5 separate regions of the Homo sapiens genome follow, and regions 2, 3, 4 and 5 are each linked to region 1. The links come from fine-mapping of genetic effects on gene expression. A gene starts in region 1. Each other region holds a variant in brackets. All regions are shown on one strand. Distances are between the middles of the regions. Region 1 holds the start of ANKRD55 (ankyrin repeat domain 55). Region 2 overlaps LOC105378977 (a long non-coding RNA gene). Region 3 overlaps ANKRD55 (ankyrin repeat domain 55). Region 4 overlaps ANKRD55 (ankyrin repeat domain 55). Region 5 overlaps ANKRD55 (ankyrin repeat domain 55).

What was found. PIP is the estimated chance that this variant, and not a neighbour inherited with it, causes the effect.
Region 2: its variant is the best candidate, but not a certain one, in a credible set for the expression of ANKRD55 in whole blood (INTERVAL, PIP 0.53).
Region 3: its variant is the best candidate, but not a certain one, in a credible set for the expression of ANKRD55 in whole blood (INTERVAL, PIP 0.88).
Region 4: its variant is the best candidate, but not a certain one, in a credible set for the expression of ANKRD55 in whole blood (INTERVAL, PIP 0.55).
Region 5: its variant is the best candidate, but not a certain one, in a credible set for the expression of ANKRD55 in lung (TOPMed, PIP 0.89).

What each region holds. Positions count from the first base shown.
Region 1 is chr5:56,230,982-56,236,088 of GRCh38, forward strand. ANKRD55 (ankyrin repeat domain 55) reads right to left here and starts at 2,349. Exons shown (of 12, transcript NM_024669.3): 1 at 2,260-2,349; 2 at 1,875-1,965. The coding sequence starts at 1,932.
Region 2 is chr5:56,333,353-56,338,459 of GRCh38, forward strand. All of the region lies in intron 2 of LOC105378977 (a long non-coding RNA gene), which reads left to right. Among named protein-coding and RNA genes, the nearest start is that of ANKRD55, 100 kb to the left of the region's middle. The variant G/GT (reference allele first, on the strand shown) is at 2,954.
Region 3 is chr5:56,103,447-56,108,553 of GRCh38, forward strand. The region is part of intron 10 of ANKRD55 (ankyrin repeat domain 55); the gene reads right to left. Among named protein-coding and RNA genes, the nearest start is that of IL6ST-DT, 110 kb to the left of the region's middle. The variant T/C (reference allele first, on the strand shown) is at 2,912.
Region 4 is chr5:56,173,775-56,178,881 of GRCh38, forward strand. ANKRD55 (ankyrin repeat domain 55) reads right to left here. Exons shown (of 12, transcript NM_024669.3): 4 at 2,378-2,508. Among named protein-coding and RNA genes, the nearest start is that of ANKRD55, 57 kb to the right of the region's middle. The variant T/C (reference allele first, on the strand shown) is at 2,239.
Region 5 is chr5:56,111,766-56,116,872 of GRCh38, forward strand. It overlaps ANKRD55 (ankyrin repeat domain 55), which reads right to left. Exons shown (of 12, transcript NM_024669.3): 9 at 4,850-5,017; 10 at 1-17. Among named protein-coding and RNA genes, the nearest start is that of ANKRD55, 120 kb to the right of the region's middle. The variant A/C (reference allele first, on the strand shown) is at 3,064.

The DNA.
Region 1 (5,107 bases):
TTATTTTAGATCCTCACAACAACCCTGCTAGGTAAGCATCATTTCCTTCATTGTATTCCTGGGGAAACTAAGGCCCAGAGAGGTTAGGTAACTTGCCAAGGTCACACAGCTAAGAAGTAGATGATCTGCCATTCTGATCTACGTCTATAAGATTTAAAATCCCATGCTCTTTCCATCATATGATAAAACCTCTAGAAAGAGAGAAAGGATTGAGAAATAGAGATAAAGATGGCAGGGAGAGGGTTAACTTCCATGGGAGAGAATCCGGCCCAGGTGGAGGAATTGCTGTGAATTGCTCACATGAAAGGTGTTAAAAGAAAATCAGTCTTGTAATTCTGTATCTTAACTATGTTTGGGGCTCAATCCTGTTAGAAGGTACAGCACTGGAACATGTAAATTCATTATGAAGAGCTAGTTCTTCTTCAGTCAGTCCCAGCTCCCTCCAATTAGTCTTCAAAAATAAACCCATTGTATGTTTCGTGGCTTAGCAACATCATTTTTCAGCCAGTGTGAGCTCTTTGGTTCTTAGCAGATTTTCACTTTTACTGACTGCCATCAGTGATATAAAATGTACCAGGAGGAGAGGATGGTGGTGGGCACAGCTGTGACAACGCCTTTCTCTATGCTGTTCAGATCCAAACACGGTATGAGCCGGCACGTTCTGAAGGCGCGCACACACACACACACACACACACACACACACACACACACACACATACACATACACAAACACTATTCCAAATGAGCTAAGACCTGGAGAACACACTATACACATATATACATTAGCTAACTCAGGAATCTAAATATAAATTTATTTTTGGAGAAACCCCCTGGGCTAAAATAATTCACCCACAAAGCCAGATGTAGCTTGAGGGGTAATAAACATGCTATGGCCTAGAGCAGGAAAAGGGAAAAAAGAATGAAGCAGTACATTTTCTTAATGAGGCTTTTTCAAACCACCATTTCATGTTGTAGCCAAAACAGATAAAATCACCAAAGGAACTTAGGATCTTGAAGAATATTCAGAGACTGTAGAAAGTGGTTTAAATAATAGATATTTAAGAAAAGATTCTAAAAAATATTTATTATGTTTATAAAATGGAAATTTCATGTTTATACTAAAAAAAGATTTACTATTACACATAAGTATTACACGAAGATGTATATAAACACATTGCATATGCAAAATGTATACACATAGACCACATGGCCAAATATGTGATATTATAAGGATAAGTTGATCTCACAGCAACATTTTGATGTGGAAAATTACCTCCACTCCAGAAATTATAAGTAAGGAAGATATACCCTGGCATTGCAAATAATAGCATAGGGATATGTCATTACACAACCTTGGATGAGATAACATATCAACCCGACATAAATACAGGCAACATCTATTCCTGAAAGGAATAAAAAAATGCTTACGAAGATACAGCAATGAGATACTGGGCTAATCGAATGACAAAAAAAATGTGATGTGTTCTTACATTGCTTACCCTAATTTTTAAAAAAGATTTGGAAAAAACAGAATAAAGATGACACTATCTGAAATAGTTGGTGTGCTTGAAATCCAGTTTTTAAAATTTGAAGGTAGGAATACTTCAACAAGATCATAAGCTTATACAACAGATCATAAGCTTATTTTTCTGTTTCAGATGCTTATCAAACTAGAAGTGAACATTTTGAACAGGTTTGTTTTCTAGGTGAAATCCTCTTTCCACATCCTACATAGCAAATACTCATGCACACCCACGCACATGAACACACACACACACACACACACACTTCTCTTTCTCTCCTTACAACTGTAAATCCATACCATGAGACTAAGGATGCTAACAACCAAAGAATGTGTTAAAGCAGCATTTTACCTCTTTGCTGATCAAACACAGAAGGGGTGCTGAAATCCATGGTAGCCTGTCTCATCATTTACCATCAGAATGGCAAAAAGCATCCAGGTCTCTAGAGAGGAGAAAACACCATCTCAAACCTTACTGTCAACATGACAGTCAGAGGCAGCATCGTTTGCCAAGACCTCTGTTTCAGGATTAAATGTGCATCAGAGCTGCAGGTTGTTGTCAAGGCAAGGTGATGAAAATAGGTAAATGCTATTCCTGTAAATACCTGCTAGGAAAAGAGTTACTCTATGGCCTCATTCATCAGCTGTACATGGGCATAATACACCCTCCACCCCCAAATCAATAAACACAATTACTCAAACTCCAAAAAGATAGTAAAATTGTATGGGCCACCTGCCTTGGATCTGGGCTGGAAAAACACAGCAGATCACGGAGCTTCAGCAGCTGGAATGTCGCTTTACACCAACAGAAATCTGAATGGGTGAGTGAGGATTCACAGGGCCAGACAGAGCATGTGCAAAGCTGCCAATGCAGTTCGCATTCGGCTGTGCTTTTGGCGGAGTGAGAACTGCATTTGGGTCATGTGAGCAGAGAGTGCCATCTCAATGGAATAGGATGTAAATATTGTAGCAGGAGGCTGCTGGCCATGTGCTGTGTGGAGTAATTATCCATGTTGGCAGTCTTCTTCACTCCCCTTTCAGCTCCGTTCTCCAATTGACAGGGAGGATGGGGAAAGGCGTCATTTGAAAGGTGACATTTCAAGGCTCGAGTGTCTGTGGTGATAAAATTAAAACAGTCTGCTGTCACAAGGGTGTTTATTGTAGCATTACATGTAGTAAAACCTGAAAAATCACCCGAATGTACCTCATTCAGGGAGCAGCTAAGTAAATGGTAGTAAATTCGTACTCTAGATTTAAAAATCTGACATAAATAAATCTGTGTATTTATCTGGTGACATGTCACTAATCTATTGTTAAATGAAATAAACAAGTTATATATTTCATTTGTTCGTGTTTTAATAAAACCGGAAACCACTCACTGTATACATTATTTTTATATATTCAGACGAACACTGAAAAAGATGTAGAAAGATACGTACTAAACTGCTAATATTGGTTCCCTCAGGCCACTGTGATTAGAGTAGGAGATTTCTAACTTGTTCTGTATCAATCTCTGTATTTTTGGCTTGTTAATAACCAGTATCTATTATCTTGTATTTGTAATAAAAATATGATATACTAAATTCAAACAAAGTTCTATATTCTAGGCACAACCAGATTTTTGGATAAGTCAAATAGCCATATAGTAGATGCTTGTTGAATCTAATAATAAACACCAGCTTCCTTTGCCCTTGGATAGGATGATTCTGAGGCATGGTGTTTTACTCCGTTTGCCATTTCCCTTTCAGGATTAAACTCCTTCAGGGTTAAACTCCACTGCCACCTGTGAGAATAGGTCTAATAACGTTCTTTTTATGGGCTGCTGTTCCCTCCCTGTATTACTTTCCCACGTTCCTACTGATATTTCCTGCACTTCTCAATAAGTTACTTGCATTGGAATCATTGTCTCAGGGTCTGCTTTTACGGAAACCCAAATTAAAATATTTCTCCACAAGAGGGTACATTTCATAAGGGCAGGGTCTTTGTCTACTCTTTCTTTGTCTGCTTTGTCCACTCCATGTCCTTACAGCCTAGCACAGAGAGGGGCACAAAGGAGGTGCTCAGTACATTTCAGTGCATGAGTGAAACTTCACTGAAGAACTTTCCTTGCTCAAGCTGACAACCTGCTCACTGACATTGTAACATTGGAACCCAATTAACCATCCTTCATGGGGTAAGAACTTTCTGACAAGAACTTCTGTAGTCCTTGAAATTTTCTAGTCTAAACAAGAAACCATGTACTTGAGGATTGGTTCTAGGGTTTCTGGAATTGGCTCTCAAATCTGATTAAATTTAAGGATTCTAATAGCTTTATTTCTAGGAGTAAAGAGAGCATTGATAGTCCATGGTGTGAAGTGGTAATAGAGATATGCAAAAAGCTGCACTGAATATTCCTAATTAATCACTGGACACAACAGGCAAGGAGTTGGGTGACTGTGTAGATGATACCCTCAAACATTTTTGGAAACTTAATGAATATGGCTGGTTGCTCCTAATGTCACTGGACAAAGTGATGAAAGAAAAGGATTAGCTCACGGATTCTAATTCCCAGCTCAGGTGCCATATAGATGACCTGGAGGTGTGTATGTGTACCCTGAAGGAGAGTCTTACCTCCTGTAGCCATGAGGCTGAGGATGCTGCAATCAAATGCAGGCTCTCATGCTGCAGCTGCCTGAATTACAATGCAAATTGAACTCCTGAATTACAGCGCAAGTCAAACTCCCAGCTTCACAGGATGTCTGCTGTTAAAGTGAGGACATTGATTGGGAAAGTAGAGGATACTGTAAATTGGATAGAGACATGTGAGAAGACCCTGATGAAGCTGGGGGACACTGAGCATCTAAACTCTGAGGAGTCTTCTTTGCCAGTGGAAGTGGACTCCCAATCCCTAGTAGAAGCAGCCTCCCCATCTCCAGTGGTAGCAGCCTTTTCACCTCAGTCTGAGAAGATTGACTCTGAATTGCCTGAGGAAACTGTATTGGCCTTCCTTGAGGCAGCTGCCGTGCACAACAATGCTGATTCTCTTCAGGAGCCACCACCATTGTTCCTCTGCTTCTAGACCTATAACTAGACTCAAGTCCCAGCAGCCCCTAAAGGTGAGGTGCAAAGTGTGACCCATGAAGTACATTATATTCCAAAATAATTACTTGAACTTCCTAAAAATCCAGGAAACATGGGAATGGATACTAAGGGAGTGAAATAATGGTGAAAGGAACATAAAGTTAGATCAGGTTGAATTTATTGATATTAACTAATTAAGCAGAAATTCTGCATTTACTGTTGCAGCTCAGGCAGTTATAAAGTGTTCTAACAGTCAGGTTAGTGGGTTGAAACATGGACCAAAAAGTGGCCCAGGGTGAGCAAATTGGAAATACTGGACTTGCCTTGGTTTAATGTGGAAGAGATTCAAAGGCTTAGGGAGATTGGAATGTCAGAGTGGATTTGTCATTTAAGAACTACTCACCCACACTGGAGGGTCTAGAAGACATACTTTTAGCAGTACCGTGAGGAATAGGAATAAATCTGTGAGGGGAACCCCAGCATCTTTGAAGAGTTCTGTGATTGCTCTTCTCTGCAGACAGTGAG
Region 2 (5,107 bases), 100 kb after region 1:
TTTTTGTAGAGATAGGGGTCTCACCACATTGCCCAGGCTGGTCTCAAACTCCTGAATTCAAGCAATCCTCCCACCTCATCCTCTCAAAGTGTTGGGATTAAAGGTGTGAGTCACCACTCCCAGTCATGAGTGTGTTAATTTACACTCACCAAAGCAGTGTGTGCTCCTTTCCATTTCCCACATCTTGGCCAATTGTTGATACTGTTGGACTTTAAAGTCTTTGCCAATCCAAAGTGTGTAAAGTAGTATTTCATTATTATTTTACTCACATTTCCCTTATTACATGTGAAGCCGATAATATTTTTGTATGATTGTTGGTCATTTAGATTTCCACTTCAGTGAGTTTCCTGTTCATAGTCTCCACCCATGTTTGTTACAACTTCGGTGGTCCTTTACATTTGTGAATACTAATCCTCAGTCTGTCACTTATGGTTCAAATATTTTCTGTAAGTCTGTAAATTGTCCTTTAAAAATGATGTATTTTGAGGGAGAGAAGCTCTACATTTTAATTAAATTTTTATCAAAAATTTCAATTAAAGTTTTATCAAAAGCTTAAAGATTTACCAAACCTGTTTTTTATAAGTCATACTTTTTTTGTCTTGTCTAAGAAATCATTCCCTACCTTCAATTCATGAAGATTTTCCTATTAAATGTATACACTGTCTTTAAGTCCTATTTTTCACATTTGATCTTTAATTTATTCAGAACTTTGTATTAGTCTGTTCTTGGATTGCTATAAAGAACTACCTGAGACTGGATAATTTATAAAGAAAAGAGGTTTAATTGGCTCATGGTTCTGCAGGCTGTACAGGAAACATGGCTGAGGAGGCCTCAGAAAACATACAGTTATGGCAGAAGGCAAAGGGGAAGGAGGCACATCTTACATGGCTGGAGCGGGAGAAAGAGAAGACAAGGGGGAGGTGTTACACACTTTTAAACAACCAGGTGTCATGAGAATTCACTCACTATCATGAGAACAGCAAGGAGAAAATCTGACCCCAAAATCCAATTACTTCACAGCAGGCCCCTCCTCCAAGATTGGGGATTACAATTTGACATGGGATTTGGATGGGGACACAAATCCAAACCATATTATTCTACCCCTGGCCCCTCCCAAATCTCATGTTCTACTCACATTGCAAAATACAATAATCCCTTCTCAACAGTTCCCCAGGTCTTAACTCATTTCAGCATTAACTCAAAAGTCCATCTGAGGTTGGGCATGGTGGCTAAAACCTGTAATCCCAGCACTATGGGAGGCCGATGTGGGCAGATCACCTAAGGTCAGGAGTTCAAGACCACCCTGGCCAACATGGCAAAACCTCGTCTCTACTAAAAATATAAAAATTAGACAGGCATGATGGTGGGCACCTGTAATCCCAGCTACTCAGGAGGCTGAGGCAGGGAGAATTGCTTGAACCCAGGAGATGGAGGTTGCAGTGAGCTGAGATCATGCCACTGCACTCCAGCCTAGGTGACAGAGTGAGACTCCTTCTCAAAAGAAAACCAAAAAAGCAAACAAAAACGAAAACAAAGTCTCATCTGAGACAAGGCAAGTCCCTTCTGCCTATGAGCCTGTAAAATAAAAAAACAAGTTAGTTACTTCCAAGATGCAATAGGGGTATAGGAATTGGGTAAATCCTTTCATCCCAAATGGGAGAAATTGGCCAAAGGAAAGGGGCTGCAGGCCCCATACAAGTCTGAAGCCCAGCAGGGCAGTCATTAAATCTTAAAGTTCTAAATCAATCTCCTTTGACTCTGTGCCTCACACCCAGGCCATACTGATGCAAGGAGTGGGCTCCCACAGACTTGGGCAGCTCTGCCTCTGTGGCTCTGCAGGGCTTGGCCCCCATAGCTGCTCTCAAAGGTTGGTGTTGTGTGCCTGTGGCTTTTCCAGATGCACAGCACAAGCTATCAGTGGATCTACCATTCTAGAGTCTGGAGGACAGTGGCCCTCTTCTCACAACTCCAGTGGGCAGTGCCTCAGTGGGGACTCTGTGTGTGGGCTCCAACCCCACATTTTCCCTCTGCACTGGCCTAGTAGAGGTTCTCCTTGAGGGCCCCACCTCTGTAGCAGACTTCTGCCTGAACATCCAGGCTTTCCCACAGATCTCTAGAGCAGGGGCACAATGCTGCCCAGTTCTTTGCTAACACATAACAAAAGTTACCCTTTCTCCAGTTCCCAATAAGTTCATCATCTCCACCTGAGTCCTCCTCAGCCTGGCCATCTCTGTCCATATTACTATCAGCATTTTGGTAAAAACCATTCAGCAAGTCTCTAGGAAGTTCCAAACTTTCCTTCCTCTCCCTGTCTTCTTCTGAGCCCCCCCAAACTGTCCCAACCTCTCTGCCTGTTACCCAGTTCCAAAGCTGCTTCCACATTTTCTGGTATCTATAGCAATGCCCCATTCCTAGGTACCAATTTTCTGTATTAGTTTGTTCTTACATTGCTATAAAGAGGTACCTCAGACTGGTTTATTTATAAAGAAAAGAGGTTTAGTTGGCTCACGGTTCTGCAGGCTGTATACGAAGCGTAGCTGGGGAGGCCTCAGGAAACTTTCAATCATGGCAGAAGGTGAAGGGGAAGCAGGCACATCTTACATGGCTGGAACAGGAGGAAGAGGAGAGAAAGGTGCTACACACTTTTAAACAACCAGATCTCATGAGAACTCACTCACTATCAGAAGAACAGCAAGAGGGAAATCCACCCCCATGACCCGGTCACCTCCCACTTGGCCCCTCCTTCAAGATTAGGGATTACAATTTGACATGAGATTTGCACAGGGACCAAATCCAAACCATATAAAACTTATTTTTTAGAATATTATGAAGTAGGAACATAACTTCACTTTTTTTCTATATGACAGTCACTTGTACCATTTTCTCACTGGTTTGTAATGCCACCTGGATCACATACAAATCACATAACTTGTGCTTTATGCGTCTCTATTTA[G/GT]TTTTCTAATCTACTGATCCATATGCCTATGTCAGTGCCAGACTGTCTCAATGATTTAGATTTATATGTCAGGACTAGCCTCCTTCTTAGTGTTCTCTTTTTTGAACGTTGTTTTGTCTATTCTTGAACATTTAAACTTCCAAATGAATTTTAGAATTGTTTAGTTTCATTATATATTCTCCTGCTTCTTTCATCAGAATTGCATTGAACTTACAGGTTAATTTTTGGAAAATTTACAGGCTTACAGCACTGAACCTTATCATTATTTAGTAAGGCAGATTAAAATCAAAGTATGTCTGTAGCTATTACATTGTGAATAGCACAAAAACTTTGAGGAAAATTCTTCCATAGTTATTCCATAAGTATTATCTAATTCAGCAAAGACATCATTCCCTAATGAATGCCCACAACACATCTTCACAGTTTCACTTTGTTAACATAATAAAAATATCAACCAACATTCCTATCAAAACTATACGCATTCATCATTGGTTGGCTACAGAAACAAGAACTCAGCAAAAAAGCAATGGAAGTATTCTGTGAACATCAATTGGCTTTATCCAATTTATAATAAAGAGCTTTATATATCTTATTATTATTTATAAATTATGTGATACAGAACCTTTATATTAGAAAATATAATAAACTTTTGTATAAATACTTTTAATATATTTTTAATTTCTTAAAAATATATTGATAGTCTTCCCCCACCTCCCCAGCCAGAAAGCTGTTTGTTAAATATTTACCAGCACACCACTGGCTCTAGCCCTCACCAGTATCTACATACCCTTGCAGAAGGCTACTCTGCTCCCACGACAAAAGTGCCAGAGGGTGCCCCTCAGGTACAGATTATCTGAGAGGCCTCATGAAAAGTGCCCTGTTATGGTTGTTAAACATTTACCAGCACACCAATGGTTCTATCCCACTCCCCAAGGTAGCAGCTCTCAACCAATGACAGAAAGAGTTGATGTATAAATACCTCAGTTCCCTCACCCTCAGATGGGTTGAGATAACTCTGATTTATGTTTTACACTCTTTCCCAGAGCTTCCCTAAGAGATTAAGCTCCAGTCACCCCAAGTAGGAGCTGGCCTGATAACACACCCTTTATTGTCTTCTCTTTCATTTTACTTCTTCTTTTCCCACTGATGTCTTCTCCCAAATCAACCTGTGCTTGAATTCTTATCTGTTCAAGACCACTGGATCTATAATTCGTATATCCTTTCAATCTGATTAAAAGTATCAAAAAAGGCTGGAAGGTAGAGATTGGATTTTGTGAAGAGGGCAGTTTGGAGAGAGTTGTTCCTATGCTCTAAGCTCCACTTGCCAATAAGGGAGAGGAGAGGACAGAGAGAGAGAGAGAGAGAGACAGCATGTGTGCAATTTTTCTCAACTCAAGGGTATGAGAATATGTACTAGTTTCCCAGGGTTGTCGTAACTAAATACTCCAAGTTGGGAGGCTTAAAACAACAGAAATTTATTCTCTCACATTTCTGGGTGCTACAAATCTGAAATGAAAGTGCTAGCAGGGCTAGTTCTTTTTGAGAGCTCTGAAGAAGAATCTGTTCCATGTCTGTTTCCCAGCTTCTGGTGATGGATGGCAGTCCTTGGTATTCCTTGGCTTGTAGATGAATCACTTCAATTTCCTGCCTTTGTCTTTGTTTCTCTCCTTCTCCTCCTTCTCCTTCTCCTCCTCCTTTCTGTTCCTCCTCCCCCTCCCCCTCCTCCTCCTGCTCCTTCTCCTCTTCCTCCCCTTTGTCCTCCTCCTCCTCCTTCTGTCTTCTTCTTCTTCTTCCTCCTCCTTGTCTTCTTCCTCTTCCTCCTCCTCCTCCTTCTTCTTCCTCTTCTTCTTCCTCCTCCTCTTCTTCTCCTTTCTCCTCCCCTCCTCGTCCTCCTCCTCTTGTTCTTCTTTTCCTTCTTCTTCTTCTTCCTCTTCTACTCCTTCTCCTCCTTCTTCTTCTACTCCTTCTCCTCCTTCTCCTTCTTCGTCTGTTCTTCATCGTCGTCTTCTCAATCTCCTCCTTCTTCCACCACTCGTATTGGAAAAAGAGCCCACCATACTTTAGTGTGACATCATCTTAAGTAATTGAATCTGCAATAATCCTACTTCTAAATAAAGTCACATTCTGAGGTACCGGGGTTAGGACTTTAGCATA
Region 3 (5,107 bases), 130 kb before region 1:
AAATGTGATTTAAATCCATTTTAAAATTGACTGGATGGTGTCATGAATAGGAGCTTGGTTGGGCTCTGGGGTCAAACAGAATTAGGCTTGATTCCCTGCTTCCCCACTTTTCAGTTATATGACATTGGGCAAATGATATTACCTCTCAACACCTCAATTTTTTCATATACAAAATGGTGAAAATAATTGTATATCTTTTCCACTTGTCATGAGGATTAAACTGGAGAACAAGGGTAAAGCATTTAGCTTATAGGGTAAAGTACTCAAAAGACCTTAACAAAAAAAGATTATTTGATCTTTTGCCTATCAGTCTAGTAAGAAAGAACCAGAATTGCTATAGCAATGCTCCTAGACTTTAAGGGTCTTCTGTTGGAGCAAAATAGCATAAGAAAAAAAGAAAAAACAAAAGGATTAGCCAAGAACAACTTGCATCTGTTTAAGTGAATCTCATGGTGGATGGTCTGTGCAGAAGCGGCCACCTCAGCAATGTTAGTTGATGGAGATTAAATCTCCAGTCTCCCTGGTGGATATTTTGCCATTATATTTTATCCTTTTGAACACTGAACATCAAATAACTTCAGGAGCCATTATTTACAGAGAAAATATTCCTGTGTAGAATTAACATGAAAATTTATATTAGCGAACAACTATTTATCCATGAACACTTGAGCAGAAATTTGTAAAACCAACGAGATAATAATTTTGAGTTATGTTTATGGAACACTTACTTTTGTCAGGAATAGGGATAAATGCTGTAGGCATAATCTTATTTAACTCTGACAATCACTTTTTCTTGTGAGATACATTCTATTATCATCCTCATTTTACAAATGAGGACCTTGTGACTTGGAGGAGTTCTAAAAGTGCTCAAGTCACACGCTAGGAAGGGACACAGCCTAGACTTCAACCCTATAGGGCTGACCCTGTAACTTCTATTATTCTGCCTCCTCTAAGCAGATGGGAGCAGTGGGCAAAGAAGGGCTACAGCAGTGACTCGGAGATGAAGGGGAGTTAAACTTTATTCCATGTTGGCATTTTGCTCAGTTTTCAGGGACAGGGTGGAGCCGTGCATAGCCCAAAGCTGTCTGGTGCTGCAGGCAACTCCAGGGAGTGTTCAGCTTTGGGGACAGGGTCAAGGACCACTGTCCTAGAAAAAAAGGATAGGAAATGTTTTCACAGTTACATGATGGAACCCGAGGTGACTGCAGGATTAATAATAATAATAATGATAATAACAATAATAAATAGATAATTCAGCAATCATCCATTGAGCACTCATCATATTCCAGACCCTAGAGTACAAAGAGGAGAAAGCAAGGCGTTCAGGAGGGGATTGCAATTGATGTGGGAGGAAAGACAGGTAAACATATGGTTTTGAAGCTCCATGAGTAGTGCTGTGATAGAGTTTGTGAGGGCATTGCAGAGGAAGGAATGGTCCAGAGAAGTTGAGGTTTTCTGGGATCCCATAGACCTTGTTCCAGTATCTCCTCTGCCACTTCCTAGCTAGCTCTGTGACCTTAGGCAGATGAGCTAACCTCTCTGTCTCAATTTCTTCAGTTATAAAGAGGATAAAATCTCTCCTGCAATGTTGTGGAAAGTGAAGTGTGTAGGTGTGTAGGTCAGCAAGGTGGAGCTATTCTTTTTTTTTTTTTTTTTTGGAGACAGTGTCTCACTCTGTTTCTCAGGATGGAATGCAGTAGTGCCATCGTGGCTCACGGCAACCTCTGCCTCCCGGGTTCCAGCAATTCTCCTGCCTCAGCCTCCTGAGTAGCTGGAACTACAGGCGTGCGCCACCACACCAGGCTAATTTTTGTATTTTTAGTAGAGATGGGGTTTCACCATGTTGGCCAGGCTGATCTTGAACTCCTGACCTCAGGTGATCCACCCGTCTCAGCCTCCCAAAGTGTTGGGATTACAGGCGTGAGCCACCGTGCCCGGCCAGGTGGAGCTGTTCTTATTAGCAGTCCTAAGAAAGAGCCATATTTCCTACAGAGATCAGGGTGACCTTCACATATTATAGAAGGTGAGTTTTGAGCTGGTTCTTAAAAGATTGTAGGAATCGGTCAAGCACACAGTGGAGAGAACCCAAAATAATAACAAGGGCCAAGATGTCATAGAATGGAAAGGTATGAAATTGTCAAGAAACTGAGACATATTCAAGGAACTTCTGAAGAGGTAGGGGTGGGGATTTGAGATGGGCGGTGCAGAAGCTGAGCATGACCATGCCGTGAGGTCTGACCATGCCGTGAGGGCTTTGTTTGCCCAGTTTAGAACCCTGGCCTTTGTCCTGAAAAGATGCAAAACGTTTGATGGGTTTAGACAGAAGGATCACAGGATCAGACCTAACCAGCCAGAAGAGTGCATTGTTGGCTGAGATAGTCTAGAAAATTCTAGAGAAGGAAGCTCTCTTTTGCAGGAGAAAGGAAATGCACACTTTTTTACTTTTCTTGTGACGGCTTATAAATAACCAGGCTAGCAGACAATACCACAGAGCTTTCTGTTCCATTTTCTCTGAAAGCTGCCTGCAATGAATTAAGCTGACGTGCTCCAAATTCCAAGTCTCTAGGATAAGTGCTTCATCCCCCATCTTGCTGCATCCAACCTCTGACAGGTCTCAATAAATGTTAAGCAATAATCATTACAGCTAAATGTTCAGGGCTGCTGATGTAAGCATTGGATAGTGGCTGCCTGGAATTTTAACAGCAGCACTACTAACTCATATTATTTCTACCAAACCCAGGGCAGGAAAGGAGGAAATCCAAAGATAAAGGGACAATCCAAGTTCAAGTCAGTGCTATAGTGGGATGATTTATCCAACTGCTTTACCACATTAAACTTTCACATAAAGTTTCAACTCTCCTAGACTAACAACAACGACAACACCCACTTCAGTGTAGTGCAGAAGCCTCAG[T/C]GATCTCAAAACAATTATTGTTAAAAATGATCACAAAAATAAAATCCGTAAGGCTAGGAAAGCTTTTTTTTTTTTTTTTTTTTTTTGAGACATAGTCTTGCTCTGTCGCCCAGGCTGGAGTGCAGGTGCGATCTCGGCTCACTGCAACCTCTGCCTCCTGAGTTCAAGCGATTCTCCCACCTCAGCCTCCACAGTAGCTGGGACTACAGGCGCCCGCCACCACACCTGGCTAATTTTTGTATTTTTGTATTTTTAGTAGAGATGGGGTTTCACTATGTTGGCCAGGCTGGTCTCGAACTCCTGACCTCAGGTGATCCGCCTACCTTGGCCTCCCAAAGTGCTGGGATTACAGGCATGAGCCACCACACCCAGCCTTAGTGGCTCATATCTATAATGCCAGCATTTTGGGAGGCCAAGATGGGAGGATTGCTTGAGGCCAGGGGTTCTAGACTAGTCTGGGTAACAAAGTGAGACCCTTGTCTCTACAAAAAAATGATGACAAAAAAATTAGCCAGAGGAGGAGATGTGTCTGTAGTTCCAGTTACATGGGAGGTTGAGATGGGAGGATTGCTTAAGCCCAGGAGTTTGAGGCTGAAGTGAGCTATGATCAAGCCACAGTACTCCAGCCTGGGTGACAGATCCTATCTCTCTCTAAAAAAAAAAAAAAAAAAAAATCCCTCACTCTCTTTTGATAAATCAACTGTGATAAACACTCAGCAATCATTTAATGTTTGATCAAATGACTAAGCTCCTTTCCATTTTTGAAACCCTATGACTGTATCTAAACATGAGAAGAAAGTCAATTTAAAGTCAGTTGCAGAAGCATTTTAGTAAATCTATACCCCTTAAAGCTGATTTATAGGCTGAAAACACTTGGGAAATTTATCTTATCATGACTCAGTTGCCTAGAATGGCTCCTAGTTATAATCAGCACTCAGAAAAATTGGTTGAAAAAAATATTTGATATAGGCAGATTCCATTGGAGAAATTCACCTTCCCCTTTCTGCTATTCTGCTGTCCCAGGATTTTTCTAGTTATTTCATTGTGTAAGTGAGCAAATCCCCAAACCACGTTTATTGAATTTCTTTTTATTTCAAATAAGATGGAAATTTTTGGGTGGCACATGTGTCAGAATGTACTAACTCTCCATCTAATATCTCCTCCCTCACTTAGAAACAGAAATCCAATTTTGGAGGGATAGCAACGTGGCCAGCTAAAAGACTCCTTGTTGATAGCTGTGAATATATGACCAAAGTTTAGAGGCCAATGAGATGCAAGCGGAAGTGTGGCACTTAAGCCAGATGAGTTCTTAATGGGAGCTGATTCACATGGGGACACGCATTTTTCCCCCTCTCTACTTCCTTCCTCCTGCTCCATCAGCCCCTCGAGGAGAGAAGCCATACATTAGGTGACGGGGCACATAGATGGAAAGAGCCTATGTTGCTTATGATTGTGGAGCCACCAAATGTCTGGGAACTGCCTACTTCAGACTTCTTTCATGTGATAGCAATAAACTTTTTTTTTTTTTTTGAGACAGGGCCTCACTTTGTCACCAAGTCTGGGGTGCAGTGGTGCGATCTTGGCTCACTGCAACCTCTGCCTCCCAGGCTCAAGTGATCCTCCCGTCTCAGCCCCCCAAGTAGCTGAGACCACAGGCAAGTACCACTACTCCTGGCTAATTTTTTTTGTATTTTTTGTAGAGACGAAGCTTAACCACGTTGCCCAGGCTGGTCTTGAACTCCTGAGCTCAAGCAATCCACCTCCCTTGGCCTCTCAAAGTGCTGGGATTACAAGCCTGAGCCACTGCACCTGGCCGTGATAGCAATAAACTTCTATGTTGTTCAAGCCCCTGTGACTTTGGGTTTCTTTTACAGGAAGCTGAACCCCATCCTAACTGATGTAAAAGAGACAGGCCAAGGCTGTCTTTGGAACGGAAAAAGAACAAGATTTTCAGATTTTCACATGATTTTCATAACAGAAGGTATTCGTTTGGCCGGGACAGGCCTAACTCTGGAAAACAGGATGGGTTGAGGCCCTGAAGTGTCAAAAGGTGGCAGACCACTGTGTTCCCTTCCTGATCCTTCTGCAGAAAAAAATGCAAACACTACCCATGCCACCAGCCAAGTGCTTCAGTGCTTTGTGGAGGAAGCAAAATCTTGACTGGAGTTTTTCTCAGACATCAGGAAACAGCCTTAA
Region 4 (5,107 bases), 57 kb before region 1:
CTCAGGTGATCCTCTAGCCTCTTGGCCTCCCAAAGTAGCGGGATTACAGGCGTGAGCCACCGTGCCTGGCCTCAACTCTACATATTTTATTTGAGTTTGACACATCTGTGGTAAGGTTTTTTTGTATACTGAGTTCAGAGTTGTGGCTGAGACTTAACTTCTAAGTGTCCCGTTTGCGACATTTTTCTTTAATTCTTGAATTTGAACATTGCCAGGAGGGAGGGATAAGCTTCACAGTGCAGTCCCCAGGACAACTGCTTCCCGTGAGCCCCAGCAGAACAATGGAGGGTCCTGCCTTGGGGAGCCACAGGGAGATGGGGGCAGAGTTAAAAAGGTGGCACCACATGGTGTCCTGCTGGCAGACTCTTCTCATGCAGCCCTTAGAATATATTCCTAGAAAGAGTTGTCTGCAAAGGTGTCAACTTTCCAGGCTCCAAGGGTGTCCATCATTATTCACCGTGATTTAGAGGAGTACTTCTTCCCAGTCCCTTGCATAGCTCTCTAGTCAAAGAAATGTAAAATTTTGAATTTTTGAACTTTGAAAGGGGGACAGTTTGCTTTCACTACATTCTATTTGCTAGTGGCAGTCAACTTTAGAAACCCCTTCTATGCCCTTCCTCTACCCCCTTATCCCAGTTTTCTCTTTTCTTCAGCTCAGACACTGGAAAAGTCCATAGCAAGAGCAGTTCTTAAGGCATGTGCTAGAAGGGAGGGGGCTAGGAGGACAGCCATATGTCTGTCTGAGATATGGGACTTCGGCTAATATGCACAGACCAGTGGCTTTTAAACTTGATGGGCAAGTTTTTAAAAATCGCCTGGGAGGCTGAGGCGGGCAGATCATGAGGTCAAGAGATCGAGACCATCCTGGCCAACATGGTGAAACCCTGTCTCTACTAAAAATACAAAAATTAGCTGGGTGTGGTGGTGCATGCCTGTAGTCCCAGCTACCTGGGAGGCTATGGCAGGAGAATCGCTTGAACCTGGGAGGCAGAGTCTGCAGTGAGCTGAGATCGCACCACTGCACTCCAGCCTGGTGACAGAGTGAGACTCTGTCTCAAAAAAAAAAAAAAAAAAAAAAATTGCCAAGGAGGTTTGTTCAACATGCAGACTCCCCCAACACCAACTACCCCAGTCCTGCTCCCAGAGTATCTGACTCAGAAGGTCTAGGGTATACCCCTGGTACCTGCATTTGACACTAATGTGAATAAGTTCTGATAACCCTCTACCATCAGACCAGCCTGGCATTTGCATTTGAAACAAGCACCCCAAGGGATATTGACACAAAAGATCTGTGGACCACAGTTTGAAAATTTCTTCCCAGATTTGCATGTGAGTTCTAGAGAGAGAGCACAAATAGAAAATGAAAAAGTAGGCTCTAAAGGAAATCTCTGTGAGACTTGGGCAATGCTTCATTGCAATCTATGATAGGTCATGGCAGAAAGGGGTGGTGTTTGGGAAAGGGAAGTGATTTAATTCAGCAGGACACCCTCAATGGGGCTGGTCCAGAGTGAATTCACCACCATCAGTGGGCAGCAATAGCAAATGCAAGCCATAGCAAATGCAAGAAGCTGCACTGGTAGCAATGGTGGTCATAGTGAAGATTTCTGGGTACCTCTCTGGAGAGGAAGAAAAAGGATGACCTCCATGTGGTGGTTAGGACTTGTTTGACATGGACTCAAGGCACCCCTAGGACCTCCCAAAAGGATTGCAGGAAGAGTTTGAGAGGAGAGGGTCTTGAGGATTTTCAGTAAGGCTTAACCAGGCTTGCTCTAATGTTGGGAAATGCTGAACTGAAATCTCTACCGGTGAGGACTAGTATTATGACACAGTTGTTAAATTGAGCCCTGATTGTGGGCTGAGTCATCTGCTTGGCGTTGTCCCTTTAAGAGCCTGCTTTGTCTCCCCTGTTCTTTATCTTCCAGTCCCTCCCACCACCTTCCCCAGTTCTCGTTGTTCTCCACATTCCTTAGCCTCAAGCTTCTACTCAACCAATCCTACCCCACAGATGTTAATTGGATCTTCACAGTATTCCCACCCTGTTGGGGTTATTTAGGGAGATTGTTTTTAGAAGCACCAAGTGTGTCCAGAAATATCCCAAGAGAAATTCTGATGCCATTAAGATAGAAAAGAATGTTTCCCTAATGGCCATATCACCTCTATCTTAGAGGATTGTTAGGAAGATCCAAAATGGCCCAAATTCATGAAACCAACTCTAAGTGGGGATATAAACGTTGAAGA[T/C]GATTGGAGTAAAGCTTCAAGTTCCAGCTCCTTTAGCCAGCTGCATAGATCCAAGAATGCTCCTTTGCAACTGGGACCCCATAATGACACCCTTCGCCTACCCTGCTCCTTCCACCCTGTGACAGGCACAAGTCAGTACCAGGTAGGTGGCCAGGCATAAACTTGTGCGGCCATAAGCATCCTGCATGTTAATATTGGCTCCCATCTTCAACAGCAGCTTCACTGTGTCCGCTTGACGTCCAGAAACCGCATGCATCAAGGGCGTGCATCCTGGAATGAGACATTTCAACAGCCTTTAAACATGTGTGACCCATGAAACTGATGAGCAGGCTTTATTGGCCTGTTCATTTATTTTGCTATTTGCAATACAAACCCAGCTGTTTGTATGGGACTGAAGGGAGATGAAGCTGATTGTTGCTACATCTCTATAAACTATGTATTTTTTTTACTGGCTCTTTTCAATCTTCTGCAATTTTGCAATAATTGGCTGAGTAAAACATTTTGGGTAGATGATAAAAATTGCTTATGACTGTGTCAGGGATCAGCATAATTTAAGACATAACAGGCAGATTTATCCTGACTTGGCTTGAACCATGTAGAATCTAGGAGTGCCTTTGGAAAGCCGCTCTATCTAGGCAGATGGGTTCAGCACACTTTTATAGGGGGTGGCAGGTGTTAAGGGGCAGCAACAGTACCCAGCCTTGGATTGCACAAACTCTTGCTGAAAAAGTGGCCACCTGTACTGAAATGCTTCTCTGTTTTCAGAATCAATATAGGTCAAGGCATTTAGTTTTTTATGTGTTTTCTTTCTGAATAAAAATAGAGATGAAATTACACATTTTGATGAACTTTGCAGGGCTGTTGGAACAAGCCAGCCTCATGAAGCAGGATCCAGGTGCTTCTTATTCCTTCAGGTGAAGAACTCAAACCTCAGATTCACTCCTTGCCCAGTCGAGACTTGTGTAGATGTCTTTGGACTGGAGATTGTGATTCTTCTCCAGATGAACTGCAAGCTATGACCCTGAGAAATCCCCAAGAAAGGGTAAATCCCAAGATTTCTGTTTTCACTGAAAGAACACCGAGTTCAGAGTTGTGGCTGAGTCTTAACTTCTAAGTGTCCCTTTTGCCAAAGTTTTCTTTAATATTTGAATTTGAACATTGCCTGGAGGGAGTGATGAGCTTTGCAGTGCAGTCCCTAGGACACCAGAAATTGAGTTGCAGTCGGCAACTCAATTTCTCTCCAATTTTTTTCCTTCTGAAACTCTTTCAGTCATCTGTACTGGGAAAAAGCAGCAATGAAGTGCTATGTCTTAAAATAGTTGCAAAATTTCCTTCCTTTCCCTTCCTCCCTTCCTTTCTTCCTGTCAACAAGTGGTAATTATAACTATTGAGAGAAAAAAAGGACATGCTGCAAAAGGCAATTATTGAAGCAATCTGTGAATCTGAAATGCTCAGTAAGTAAAGCTAAAGAATCCCTAGATAGGCCGGGTGTGGTGGCTCCTGCCTGTAATCCCAGCACTTTGGGAGGCAGAGGTGGGCAGATCTCTTGAGGCCAGGAGTTCGAGAACAGCCTGGCCAACATGGTGAAACCCTGTCTAAAAATTCAAAAAAAATTAGCCGGGCATGGTGGCACGCACCTATGATCCCAGCTACTCAGGAGGCTGAGGCAGGAGAATTGCTTGAACCCGGGAGGTGGAGGTTGCAGTGAGCCGAGATTGTGCCACTGCACTCCAGCCTGGGTGACAGAGTGAGACTCCATCTCAAAAAAAAAACACACACACAAAGAAACAAAAACAGAATCCCTAGATATTGTTTTCATAAAATTACATGCTATGTCTGGCTAATTTACATCTATCTTGAGAGCCTAGCTTACATATAAATTTCTTCAGGGAACACCTTCCTGACCCTCCATTGTGAACTGGATGTCCATGTTATAATTTTTCATCATCCTTCATTTTTCTCTAGTAATTCTTTTAATATTTTACAATTATGTATTGATTGAGCATAATCACGTGTTTAAAATTTGTCTCTTCTAAGCTATAATTCGAAGTGGAAGGAACCACATCTCTCCTGCTCATCACTGAATCCTCGGTACCAACCACTGTACCTGGTACCGGGAAGATATTAAACAGCAATTCTGAAATGCATAACCAAATGATTACTGAACAAATCTTTTCTTTCTTTTTTTTTTTTTTGAGACGGCATCTTGCTCTGTTGCCCAGGCTGGAGTGCAGTGGTGTGATCATGGCTCCCTGCAGCCTTGACCTTCTAGGCTCAAGCAATCCTTCCACGTCAATGTCTCAACGTACGGGGATTACCGGCGTGAGCCACTGCATCTGGCCCAAATATTTCTTAAGTTTAAAATAATTTTCCTGAGGTGTCTCTAACTGAGGTTTAGGGAGGAATGACAGATTTATCTCCAAATGGGGTTCCAAAATTTATTTTAAGTTGGTACATTTGTCCTTGTAGAAAATAGAAAAAAAAAAACCCTCAAAATAAAACAAGTAAGACAGTACAGCATTGTTCCTGTATGTAAAATTCATATATAAAAGAAAAGGTCTTCCTTAAACAAAAGCAATAGGAAAAGTAACAAAAAACAAAAGCAACAACAACAAAAATACGGTACTTAGGAATAAATCTAACCAAAGAAGAGCAAGACTTATGTGGATAAGAAGTATAAAACTTACTGGGTGACATAAAAGAAGAACTAAACATGGGAAGATACTATGTTTATGAAGGAAAAGACTCAATATAATAGAGCTATCAATTTCCTGAAAATGAATCTATACATTCATTGCAAGTCTAATAAAAACTCAACAAAGCTGTTGTGAAACTTGAAAACCACTTCATACATATCGGATTAGCAATT
Region 5 (5,107 bases), 120 kb before region 1:
GTCGAGTAGGCTCTGTTCTATGCGAATATAAAAGAGCAGGGATGATATGTGAGTATGGGAAGTAGAGACATCACTCACCGAAATACCGACCCCCTATTCCACATGCTTCATCAGGTTTTCTGAGATCCTTCCTAGATACCTCCAAAGCCTTCTCAAGTTAAAGGCAGTGTGAAGAACTCACAGTACCCCTGGCAATCCCGCCCAGAAGAGGCTCTTTACCATGGGCAGTCTTTGCCCAAGGAGGACGTTTCTTAGATTTTTCTTGCTCCTTCAGGGGATATCCTTTCAAAATTTACACCTAGATCATCTGTTTTCAACAAGAGGTTAACTAAACTGAAAATTAGCTGAAAGTGTTGTTCTCACATCTCAAGGACAGTCAGTAGGCACGCAAGTTGAAGTCAGAGATGAAGCCTAAGGGTTTGAGTTCAGGCTTCAATGAGCAGAAGGATGGAGGAGGTTGCTGAGGTGGGGGGAATGTGGTTTTAGGCTTTCTCTGACAGAGATCCTAGAAAACCTGGACCGAGTGCTGACCGACTGACATTATCCCCCTCAGAGACCCCTCCCCATTTTAAACTAAAACTTTCCTATCGAAAAGTACTTTTAAAAAAAGTATGCTGAAGAACAGGTACGGTGGCTAATGCCTATAATTCCAGAACTTTGGGAGGCTGAGGCAGGAGGATCACTTGATGTCAAGAGTTTGAGACCAGCCTGGGCAACATGGCAGGATCTCATCTCTAGCAAAAAAAAAAAAAAAAAACAACCAAGGAAAGAAGCTTTAGTCTGGGCTCCAGCGAGGGAAGAGGAGGAGTGCATGACCAAGGTCGGGCGTGGCTGCAGAAGAAAGTGAGCAATGCCCAATGCGCAGGCAAATTATAAAGGAAAAAGGCCAGCAGTTGTCGAGAGGTTCCCTGAGGCAAGATTCTGTTTGTGTTCCTTAGAAAATTCTGTGTGATTCTCTTTTGAGGCTCCAATTGACTTAATGCTTTCTGCGGTATGAATTAACGATGAAACCTGACCCGTGTGTGTGCCCCTGAGTCAGATTGCAACACTACTTTCTGGAGTGAGATATCGCAATCTGCAATTTGAAAAACATCACCACTTATTTTGGATGCATATAATGAATGTTTTCTCTACAGGTCACACAGTGCATCCTTTGAATTTTTATTCCATGATGTAGTCTTATCTTTATTCTTTCACCTTCCAATGGGCTTTTTGAAATACTGAATTCTAGACTCCTAATACCACCAGAGAGAGAGCCCCAGGGCACTTCCGACGCTCAAGTTTCCCTATAAAGAATATGTCTGTGTGAATTGATGCTATTGCAGCATCTTGTGTAAGCCATCTCCTCCTCCTGTTACAGCTTGTGCTTTAGGCCTCTGGGTCTCAAAATGGGGTCCACTGAACCCTTGGAGAGGGATCCCCGACTTTTTAAGGGGTTTATGGCATTAAACTCTATTCATAATAACATCACAACGTTATTTGTCTTTTTCACTGTGCTGCCTTGCATCGATGGTGCAATAGAGGTGGTGGGTAAAATGGTGGCTGCCTCAGTACAAATCAGGACAATAGTGGCATCAATGTACTTGCAGAAAAAAAAAGTCCTTTAACTTAATAATGTCCTTGTTTAGGGAGTACAAGTTATTAATTTGATTAAATATTAACTTGAGTACACTTGTTTGACAAAATAAGAAGCACTCGTAAGCAATTCTACTATATACGGAGGTGTGATGATTGTCTTGGGGTAAAGCAGCTGTGCAATTGTTTGAGTCGCGGGCTGAACCGGACACTTTTTTCACGGAACACCATTTTTATGCCTTGCAGACAAACTGTGGTTATGTAGAGCTAAGTATTTGCAGAAATTTCTGCAAAATAAATAAAGTGAAATACACAGAAACAGAGAGTAAAACAGTGATTACCAGAAGTGAGGGTGAGGTGGGGGAATGGGAGGTGTAGGTCGAAGGGTACAAAGTTGCAGTTGAGTTCAAGTATTTCTCGTGCTTCAGCCTCCCAAGTGTCTGGGATTACAGGTGCATGCCACCACGCCCAGCTAATTTTGGTATTTTCAGTAGAGATGGGGTTTTGCCATCTTGGCTAGGCTAGTCTTGAACTCCTGGGCTCAAGTGATCCACCCACCTTGGCTTCCCAAAGTGTGGAGGTTACAGGCGTGAGTCACTGCGCTCGACCCATCTGACTAGGTATATTTATATCAAAATATGTATACTATATATATATATATATATATATATATATACAATAAAAATATATTAAAATGAATAAAGTGGGCCAGGCGTGGTGGCTCACGCCTGTAATCCCAGCACTTTGGGAGGCCGAGGCGGGTGGATTACCTGAGGTTGGGAATTAGAGACTAGCCTGACCAACATGGAGAAAACCTGTCTCTACTAAAAATACAAAATTAGCCAGGGGTAGTAGCACATGCCTGTAATCCCAGCCACTCTGGAGGCCGAGACAGGAGAATCACTTGAACCTGGGAGGCAGAGGTTTCGGTGAGCCGAGATCGTGCCATTGTACTCCAGCCTGGGCAACAAGAGCGAAACTCCATCTCAAAATAAATAAACAAATAAATAAAATAAAACGAATACAGTGAATATTTCATTTCAAGATAAATAACTGACAGTTATTGTAGCCAATGACAAAAGTCTAGCTTTCAAGCAAAAACTAGAATTTTGGAAAACTTATATTCACATTGTAAGCTTGACACCATCTCAGTATATAAAGCTTGTCCAATAGATTGGTGGTGATGTTAACAAATGTGACTTTTTGATATTGTATAATGAAATGTGTCATCTGGAAGATCTTTATAATTAAGTGAACCAATATTTTCCAAATGACCAATGCAAGGTGTTAATAAAATCACGCATGTGTATAAGACCCATTTAAAGTATAAGGTATAGTAATGTATTCTAATGTGACAGAGTACAAAAAATTCATTGATATGGTGAGAATCCACATTGCAATTAACCTTTAAGAAACTGCTGCTTGTTAAGTTTTGGTATCGTATCAAAGAAAAATACACACAATTATCTGAAAAGCCTATTGAGATAC[A/C]CCTGCCTTTTCCAACTACGTATTTATATAAGGCTGGATCGTTTTTATATACATCAATCAAAACATGATACTGTGGCTGGGTATGATGGCTCACACTTCTAATCCCAGCACTTCAGGAGGCTAAGGTGGGAGGACTGCTTGAGGCCAGGAGTTTGAGACCAGCCTGGGTAGCATAGTGAGGCCATCTCTACAAAAAAATAAAAAACCAAAAAACAAGAAAACCCAGCTGGGCATGGTGGCACATGCCTAAAGTCCCAGCTACTCAGGAGGTTGAGGTGAGGGGATCGTTTGAGCCCAAGAGTTCAAGGTTGCAGTAAGCCATGATTATGCCACTGCACACCAGCCTGGATGACAAGTGAGACTCTGGTTCTAAAAATAATAATAATAATAAATAAATAAATAAATAAATAAGCAAACCCCCAAACCAAAAAACAAAACACATTACATCGCAACAGAGAGAATGCAAAGAGTAGATGTGGAACCCACTTTATTCTATTTTTTTTTTTTTTTGAGACGGTCTTGCTCTGTCATCCAGGCTGGAGTGCAGTGGCACTGTCTCGGCTTACTGCAACCTCCACCTCCCAGGCTCAAGCGATTCTCCTGCCTCAGCTTCCCCAGTAGCTGGGGTTACAGGCACGCACCACCACATCTGGCTAGTTTTTCTGTTTTTGGTAGAGATGGGGTTTTACCATGTTGGCCAGGCTGGTCTAGCTGAACTTCTGACCTCAGGTGATCTACCCGCCTCAACTTCCCAAAGTGCTAGGATTACAGGTGTGAGCCACCATGCCCAGCCCGCAGCTGTATTCTATTAAGCTTGTATTAAGCTACCAAAGAGAGTTGCCAAAAATATAAAACAATGCTGCTCTTCTCATGACAATATTTTTGTTTTGGGAAATAGAAATATTAAATAAAACATTTTATTTTTAATTAAAATATGCTATTTATGTTCTCATGTAAATGTAATGTTTATTATTAATTTAAATGGATAACAATGCATATTTTATTAAAAATTTCTCATTTTAATTAATTAATTAATTTTTTTTTGAGACGGAGTCTCACTCTGTCACCCAGGCTGGAGTGCAATGGAGTGATCTCGGGTCACTGCAAACTCCATCGCCCAGGTTCAAGCTATTCTCTTGCCTCAGCCTCCCAAGTAGCTGAGATTACAGGCACCCACCACCATGCCTGGCTAATTTTTGTATTTTTAGTAGAGGTGGGATTTCACCATGTTGGCCAGGCTGGTCTCGAACTCCTGACCTCAGGTGATCCACCTGCCTCAGCCTCCCAAAGTGCTGGGATTACAGGCATGAGCCACCGCACCTGGCCGCTCGGTTTTAATTTCTAATGCCATAAATATTGACGGGTTTGACTCTCATAAACTAAAGTTATCTGGGGGCCCTTAATAATTTTTGAGAGTGTAAAAGGGTCCCGAGAACGAAAGTTTGAGACTCATCAAATTAGGCAAAAGAGGGATTCAGAGGATTTGCCAAAAAGGGAAGAGGAAAGAGAGAAAAGGAAAGAAGAGATTCAAGTTCAGTGAATATTAGGCTGATGGATTTGGATTCACTACTATCATTTTGCTCCAAGAGCACTTTATTCTGTGTTAGATAATGGCAAACGTTAATTATAGAATCATTTAATGTCTTTAATACTATGTAACATTAATTATATTATAAAAGTATAATAATATTATTATTGGTTTGCACCTTGGCAATTTAAAACATTTCATCCAAATTTATAAATAGTTGAGAAGAATAGAAAAATAACTGGCTCCTGTTGTACTCACCTGCTCTCTTGGGAGAGGAGTTTGACACACGCCGTGTGACCGCAGTACAGGGCATAGGCCAAGGGCGTGCTCTCATTGATGTCCCGCAGGTTGCTGTCCATTCCCAACTCCAGCAGTGACTGGACACATTCGGCCTTCCCTGCAGCTGCAGCCCAGTGCAGAGGTGTCCTGGAGGGGCCATGTGAAAAAAGCACAAGCGTCTGAGCATGTGAATTGTTCAGGCTGCTTAGCCAGCAACAGCTCCTGCTCAAAGTCAGG